Linked DNA regions of Homo sapiens: region 1 is linked to region 2. The links come from fine-mapping of genetic effects on gene expression. A gene starts in region 2. The other region holds a variant in brackets. All regions are shown on one strand. Distances are from middle to middle. Region 1 overlaps GSAP (gamma-secretase activating protein). Region 2 holds the start of FGL2 (fibrinogen like 2).

What was found. PIP is the estimated chance that this variant, and not a neighbour inherited with it, causes the effect.
Region 1: its variant is the best candidate, but not a certain one, in a credible set for the expression of FGL2 in whole blood (TOPMed, PIP 0.81).

Annotation. Positions count from the first base shown.
Region 1 is chr7:77,342,609-77,347,001 of GRCh38, forward strand. All of the region lies in intron 19 of GSAP (gamma-secretase activating protein), which reads right to left. Among named protein-coding and RNA genes, the nearest start is that of GSAP, 72 kb to the right of the region's middle. The variant A/C (reference allele first, on the strand shown) is at 2,155.
Region 2 is chr7:77,197,525-77,201,917 of GRCh38, forward strand. FGL2 (fibrinogen like 2) reads right to left here and starts at 2,295. Exons shown (of 2, transcript NM_006682.3): 1 at 1,657-2,295. The coding sequence starts at 2,269. The region is part of intron 2 of CCDC146 (coiled-coil domain containing 146); the gene reads left to right. RefSeq lists a silencer at 1,886-1,995.

The DNA.
Region 1 (4,393 bases), 150 kb after region 2:
CCCCTTGGCGACCAATCATGCACCCCTTACCATCCCATTAAAACCTAATCACCCTTACACTGCTCAATGCCAATATTCCATCCCACAGCACACTTTAAAAGGATTAAAGCCTGTTATCACTTGCCTATTACAGCATGGCCTTTTAAAGCCTGTAAACTCTCCTTACAATTCCCCTATTTTACCTGTCCAAAAACCAGACAAGCCTTACAGGTTAGCTCAGGATCTGCGACTTATCAACCAAATTGTTTTGCCTATCCACCCCACAGTGCCAAACCTATATACTCTCCTATCCTCAATACCTCCCTCCACAACCCATTATTCTATTCTAGATAAACCTAGTTGACCCCATAGATCCTAAATCCTTTCCCCACTCTCCTTTCCATTCCTTAAAAAACAGCTCCCACACTAGCTCTCCCTAACTTATCACTCCCTTTTCATTACACACAGCCAAAGTGCAGGGCTGTATGGTTGGAGTTCTCACACAAGAGACGGGACCGTGTTCTGCAGCCTTTCTGTCCAAACAACTTGATCTTACTGTTTTAGCCTAGCCTTCATGTCTGTGTGTGGCAGCTGCCGCGCTTTAATACTTTTAGAGGCCCTCAAAATCACAAACTATGCTCAACTCACTCTCTACAGTTCTCATAACTTCCAAAATCTATTTTCTTCCTCACACCTGACGCATATACTTTCTGCCCCCCTCCACTACCTCTCAGCAAGCCGAACTCATTGCCTTAACTCAAGCCCTCAATCTTGCAAAAGGACTACGCATCAATATTTATACTGACTCTAAATATGCCTTCCATATCCTGCACCTCCATGCTGTTATATAATAGGCAAAAAGAGGTTTCCTCACTATGCAAGGGTCCTCCATCATTAATGCCTCTTTAATAAAAACTCTTCTCAAGGCCACTTTACTTCCAAAGGAAGCTGGAGTCATTCACTGCAAAGGCCATCAAAAGGTGTCAGATCCCATCGCTCAAGGCAACGCTTATGCTGATAAGGTAGCTAAAGAAGCAGCTAGCATTCCAATTTCTGTCCCTCACTGCCAGTTTTTCTCCTTCTCATCGGTCACTTCCACCTACTCCCCCACTGACTAACTTCTACCTATCAATCTCTTCCCACACAAGACAAATGGTTCTTAGACCAAGGAAAATTATCTCCTTCCAGCCTCACAGGCCCATTCTATTCTGTCATCATTTCATAACCTCTTCCATATAGGTTATAAGCCGCTAGCCCATCTCTTAGAACCTCTCGTTTCCTTTCCACCGTGGAAATCTATCCTCAAGGAAATCACTTCTCAGTGTTCCATCTGCTATTCTACTACTCTTCAGGGATTGTTTAGGCCCCCTCCCTTCCCTACACATCAAGCTTGAGGATTTGCCCCTGCCCAGGACTGGCAAATTAATTTTACTCACATGCCCGGAGTCAGGAAACTAAAACACCTCTTGGTCTGGGTAGACACTTTCACTGGATGGGTAGAGGACTTTCCCACAGGGTCTGCGAAGGCCACCGTGGTCATTTCTTCCCTTCTGTCAGATATAATTCCTCGGTTTGGCCTTCCCACCTCTATACAGTCCAATAACACACAGGCCTTTACTAGTCAAATCACCCAAGCAGTTTCTCAGGCTCTTGGTATTCAGTGGAACCTTCAGGCCCCTTACCATCCTCAATCTTCAGGAAAGGTAAAATGGACTAATGGTCTTATAAAAACACACCTCGCCAAGTTCAGCCTCCAACTTAAAAAGGACTGGACAATACTTTTACCACTTGCCCTTCTCAGAATTCAGGCCTGTCCTCGGGATGCTACAGGGTACAGCCCATTTGAGCTTCTGTATGGACGCTCCTTTTTGTTAGGCTCCAGGCTCATTCCAGACACCAGCCCAACTTGGACTGCACCCCAAAAACTTGTCATCCGTACTATCTTCTGTCTAGTCATACTCCTATTCACTGTTCTCAACTACTCATAAATGTCCTGCTCTTGTTACACTGCTGGTTTACACTGTTGCTCCAAGCCATCACAGCTAGTATCTCCTGGTGCTATCCCCAACTGCCAGTCTTAACTCCCTTTTAGAGTGGATAGATGATCTTTGCTGACGGGGTACACTCCAATACTTTCACCCTGACGAAGTCCTATTCTTTACTTTTATACTCATT[A/C]TTATTCTTGTTCCCATTCTTATGCCACCCTCTACCTCTCCCCAGCTATCTCCACCACACTGCCAATCTCACTCTCACCTAGCCATTTCTAATCCTTCTTTAACAAACAATTGCTGGCTTTGCATTTCTCTTTCCTCCAAAATCGCTGAGGCCTCAACTTACTCACTGCAACAACAACAACAAAAAAAGAAAGGACTCTGTATATTTTTAAATGAAAAGTGTTGTTTTTACCTAAATCAGTCTGGCCTGGTATATGACAACATAAAAATCTAAAGGATAGAGCCTAAACTTGCCAACCAAGCAAGTAATTATGCTGAACCCCCTTGGGCACTCTCTAATTGGAGGTCCTCCCAATTATTAGTCCTTTAATATCTGTTTTTCTCATTCTCTTATTCAAACCTTGTATTTAGTTTCTCAATTCATCCAAAACCACATCCAGGCCATCACCAATCATTCTATACGACAAATGCTCCTTCTAACAACCCCACAATATCACCCCTTACCACAAAATCTTCCTTCAGCTTAATCTATACCACTCTAGGTTCCTATGCTGCCCCTAATCCTGCTCGAAGCAGCCCTGAGAAACATTGCCCATTATTGCTCCATATCACCCCCAAAAAATTTTTGCTGCCCCAACACTTCAATGCTATTTTATGTTATTTTTCTTATTAATATAAGAAGACAGGACTATCAGGCCTCTGAGCCCAAGCTAAGCCATCATATCCCCTGTGACCTGCACGTATACATCCAGATGGCCTGAAGGAAGTGAAGAATCACAAAAGAAGTGAAAATGGCCGGTTTCTGCCTTAACTGATGACATTCCACCATTGCGACTTGTTTCTGCCCCATCTTAACTGAGCGATTAACCTTGTGAAATTCCTTCTCCTGGCTCAGAAGCTCCCCCACTGAGCAACTTGTGACACACGCCCCTGCTCATAAGAGAAAACCCCCTTTAACTGTAATTTTTGACTACCCACCCAAATCCTATAAAACGGCCCCACCCCATCTCCCTTCGCTGACTCTTTTCGGACTCAGCCCGCCTGCACCCAGGTGATTAAAAAGCTCTATTGCTCACACAAAGCCTGTTTGGTGGTCTCTTCACCTGGACGCACGTGACATCCCTTTCATTGAATATCAATTTATCACAAAATAAGAATCAAATGCTATAAAAATCGTCATAGCCTTTCACCCAATGTTACCTCTGGGCTCTTAACCTTAGGGGAATAGATCAAAAGAAAAACTGTATGTATAAAAATGTTCACTTTGGGAGGCCGAGGTGGGCAGATCACCTGAGGTCAGGAGTTCGAGACCAGCCTGACCAACATGGTGAAACCCCGCCTCTACTAAAAATACAAAAATTATCCGGGCATAGTGGTGCACACCTGTAATCCCAGCTACTCAGGAGGCTGAGGCAGGAGAATCGCTTGAACCCAGGAGGCAGAGGCTGCAGTGAGCCGAGATCACACCAAAGCACTCCAGCCTGGGCAACGAGAATGAGACTCCATCTCAAAAAAAAAAAAAAAAAAAAGAAAGAAAGAAAAAAAATTCTCTGCAACATTATTTCTAACAGCAAAAAGAAATTTTTTTAATGGGGGCTAGGGACAAACTAAATGTCCAAAAAACAGAAGAACAATTGAGTTAAGGCACTGCAACCCAGCAGGGCATGGTGGCTCATACCTGTAATACCAACACTTTGGGAGGCCGAGTTAGGAGGATGGCTTTAGCTTAGGAGTTTGAAACTAGCTTGGGCAACATAGTAAGACCCTGTCTCTACCAAAAAAAAAAAAAAAAGTTTTAATTAACCAGACATGATGACATGTACGTGTAGTCCTAGCTACTCAGGAGGCTGAAGCAAGAGGACTGCTTGAGCCCAGGAGTTCAAGGTTGCAGTGAGCTGTGACTATGTCATTGCACTCCAGCCTGGGCAACAGAGTGAGACCCTACCTCAAAAAAAGAAAAAAAAAAAAGTATGACATACTTATTGTGGTGTTTTGTATGTATTAATTTTCATCCACCCACTCCTGGTTCACAATGCCCATAGCCTTTGTTACAGCCTGATGTTATAATATCGGGTATTTTAGGCTTCGGGACCAGGACTAGTCTCGGGAAACTCTCTCTCCTGCCTTCCTTTCACCTGCCCTAAGGCATGACTCTCCCCTCCACCACTCCCCACCACCACCCCCCGCCCCACCCCCCTGCCTTTCTGATTGCAGATCTTAAGACCCTCCCCTAAGAGGGT
Region 2 (4,393 bases):
TCAGATGATTCTAACTCTCCTAGAACTGTATTCCTTGCATACAGAGGAAGCACAGGCTTCTATTTTCTTTCACCTAAAGGGGCTGATAGCCTCTACTGTCAGAAGGTTTTATAGCATATATTCCAAATGATGTGTTAAAATCCTAATGCATAGGATTGATCATAAATTCATATTCATTTCACTTGACAACTATATAAAGAAGCTCAAGTGAAAAAGAAGTATCTTTTTCAATGACACACCAATATTCTTATTCTGTATTTATTATCTAGGAAAGTATTTAGCCACTATTTCACATGTTGGGTTTCTAGAAAGAAACAACAGGTGACTATATTGAGGATAAGCATAATAATCAGTTAACAAAGTTCTGTATGAATCAGACAGATATTTACTCCCAGATAGTTTTTATTAAAATGTGTGACAAATAAGGTAAGTTTAATATGAGATACCCTAAGGCATAAAAATCTATTCCTGTATATTTAGAGCTCAGAATATTCAGTTATTTCACCCAAAATGTTTAGGAGAAAAATAGACAATAGTCTTCATATCATGACAAGTTGCCATGCAGCATCTAATCTAATGTATACCCACTGATGTCACCTAAGCGGTGAACCTTGGATTCGCAGTGTGCCAGGTACATTCAGATGCAGGCTGCCAGGAGTATTACCAATAGAGGTCCTTGAAAATATGACCCTTCCCTCCTTCACTGGCAGATGCCCTGGGGATGGAGCATGCCTGAGATACTGTCTCTAAATGAAAGTGATCTCCGCCCTGTCCTTTCAACCTCACGTTCATGGTAAGTAGAGGTCCAAATGCGGAGATGGCTTTCCAAAGTATGAGACAGTCAGCAACAGTGGTCCCAGTGACTCAGGTGAAAAGCCAAGGTTTGGAGAGTCAATACCACTGTTAGTTCGTGGGTGGAGTAGGCGATTAAGTCTGTGGAATTTCACATGTATTTATTAAAGTTAATTCAAGTAATTTGGATGGTGAGGATGGGTTCTACTTCTATCTGCTTGAATTCTAACTTCAGGTAAAAGAGAAAGAAATATGAATACCTTCCCTTAGTGGCATGCTAAAACTCTCCCCTTAAAATATTTTTTGTGCCACTAGGTCTCAAAGCAAAAATTTGTGCACACATATGAAACTGCTTTTATTCCATCTGTAAACTCTCCCATTTTCTCCAGATATTTGGGATTAAGAACTAGATTACTTGCTAAAATCTTTCAAAGACCTCTTTAGCCATGAGAAGCGGCAGTCAGTCAATCACAAGAAAAACTGATTTCCAACAAACAAGGCACAATTGTGAACATCGCCTTATCTTTATTGTTTTCAAACACCTCATTGAAGAGACAAGTTAAATGCACTAAAACATCAAGAAATTCTCTCTACTTCTGCTTGCAAGTAGGTCTGGCATTAACAAATAAGATCTTAAAATTGAAAGTGACTTCCAGTGGATACAGAACTAACTATGATTTTTGTAATTAGGTCATATTTATGTGGTCATATTTGAGAAGATATTTATTTTTTCCTGTGCACCTTGATAAATAAAAGACTTAATCTGTCATCTATTTAACTTACTGACTCAGGTTAATGTTTATAGATACTCTCTAGCTGTATAACATTTATGAACATATGATAAGAAAACATTATTATACATACCTGGACGTGACTGTATTTGTTCTTGGCTGGGACACTTTGAACATTTGCCATCCAAACTATTGACAACAAATGTTAGATTTGCCACTTTGCTGTCAACATAATTTTCTATGTTGTTCATATTTACAAGATTCAGCTTCTCCAGGCGACCATGAAGTACATTGATCTCCTCTTTGGCATTCTTTAGCTCAGAGGACAGCTTGTTAACCTCACTCTCTAATTCTCTAACTCTGTTATCACCAACCTCTCCCGGGGCTCCTGTACTGGGTAACAACAGTCCGTTTCTGCCTGGGTCTCCGTTGTCATCAGCCTGCAGCTTGCAGTCTTGGCAAGATTTCTTTAGACTATTTACGATTTCCTTGAGGTTTTGGACTTCTTTGAACACCTCCTCGATCCTGCTGAATTGCTTCGGGAGCTGAATAGTCAAGGGGGGCAGGCTTACCTGGTAGGGGCACTCCCCTGCCTCTTCGCATTTCCCTCTGCTTTCTAGTCTCACTGGGCAGACATCCTTTGCTCTTTCATCTTTAATTTCCTCTGTTTCATTGTTTGCCACAACCAAAAAACCGTAAGTGGCAAGAACAGCTGAGCTCAGCCAGTACCAGTTAGCCAGCTTCATCTTTACAGTGCTGCTCACCCCAGCAGGGAGTGCGCAGGGCTGGAGCTGCTTTAATAGCGGCAGCTGCCTGAGTCAGGCTTTCTGTGTTCCCAGGAAAGGGTGGGAGCGTTTGCATCACAAGTTTTAGAAACGCACAGGAAGAGGAGATAGCCCTCATCAAACGCAGTTTGCCAAAAACTGTAACTTACTCTCAATAGAAATAATATGCATTGAAATTATTATAGTCAAATGTACACAGCCAACAAGATTCACTTTCATAATGTATTTTATGAAGTATAAGAAAAGTCTTGCATTTCTAAAGTAATTTGGTATACTTACGCTTGAAGTAAATAATTATACGTAACTTCACTGGAAAAACAGTTTTTAAAGATAAAAAGTAAGAGCTAGTTATCCAAACTGTCTATAGAACAGAAACGTTACTAAAATGAAAATGGTCCTTTTTCCTTCTTAGAATGGGGCATTGGGGAGCCTGTATTTTCTTCATGTTGGACTTTCAGGTGAAATCTTAAGCACTTTTAGAAGTTTCTAAGTGTAACAAAGTACAGCTTTCTGACTATTGCAGTTGACTTTTGCTTCATCTACTTGAAAAAGAGAAGAAAACTAGTGGAGAAAAAAGTGCTACTTTCTATTCCTTTGTCCGTAGCATAGTGTATATTAATGTCTAAATGTCTAAGACCCATTTAAAAGGACATAATTGTCTTTCATCAAAACCAGTAGCTGCCTCCTTTGCCCTTCGACATTTTGGTAATTGTACTGTCATCTTCCACAGCTGCTCAAATGTGAATCTTTGAGCTATGCCAGTGTCTGTCCTGAACTTCTCTTGCCTACAGCATCTTTGCCCTTTCTTTCTGCAGGTAGCCCTGGCAGGCGGGCCTCTTGCTTTCTGTCTCCACGCTGGTTCTTCTACCTGCTCTCTGGGCCACTTGGTATATCAGCTTGTTCAAAACATGTAGCATTAATGATAATAGTTTTCTAACTTTCTCTTCAGAGGCTGAAGGCAGGAAAGAGGAACAGCTTCAGTTAGAGAAACCACCTCCTTTTAATTTGTTTTGCATATTGACATCTCATAAGATTTCTTGTTTAAAAAGGGTTTTTTTGCTTTAAAAATAATTTCAAAATGACTGACATGGGCAAAAATCTAAATGTTTTATTGTATTACTTAAAACACTCTGTAGCCTATCTCATATTTATGTCTTTAACCTGATTTCCTATGACTTTTCTGTATATCCCCTTAATTTTAGCCAAATCCTATTCACATTCTCAAAATGTTGGCAGACTCTTTACTCTTCCATGACTGTATTTATTCTCGCATACTCAGGAGACCTGGCTTCCAACCCTAGATCTACCTCTGATCATGTAAACAGATCATCAGCTTTAATGAGCCTTTGTTCCTGTAGCTGTAGCGGAGGAATTTAGCTATTTCTTCCCTCATACAGGAATGATAGTCATGCAAACTTGGAGCACTTGGCTGGGCGTGGTGGCTCACGCCTGTAATCCCAACACATTGGGAGGCCGAGGCATGTGGATCACCTGAGATCAGGAGTTTGAGACCAACCTGGCCAACATGGTGAAACCCCATCTCTACTAAAAATACAAAAAAAAAAAAAAAAATTAGCCAGGTATGGTGGCGTGTGCCTGTAATCCCAGCTACTCGGGAGGCTGAGGCAGGAGAATCACTTGAACCCAGGAGGTGGAGGTTGCAGTGAGCCTAGATCGTACCACTGCACTCCAGCCTGGGCAATAAGAGTGAAACTCCATCCCCCAGCCCCACCCCTCACAAAAAAAGAAAAAAAAAACTTAGAGCACTTAAGAAAAAAAAAAATGCAGTGTATAAATGTAACATTCTTCCCAAATAAATTTGTCAAACATGTTCTACACACCTTATGACTTTTTTTCTTCCATCTTCATATAGCTCTTTCAAAAATTGTTTTTCTCTTCATTCCATTCAATATATCCAATTTTAGACAAAAACTTTTTAGCTAAAAATATCTATTTAATCCCCTAACTCCTAACCTCATTTCTTCTCACCTATTTTCAAGCTGTGACACTTCCCTGTTGGGAGGTAAGAAATAAATGAAACAATAGATAATTTTAAAAAGGAGACATGATGACAACATAGATAAA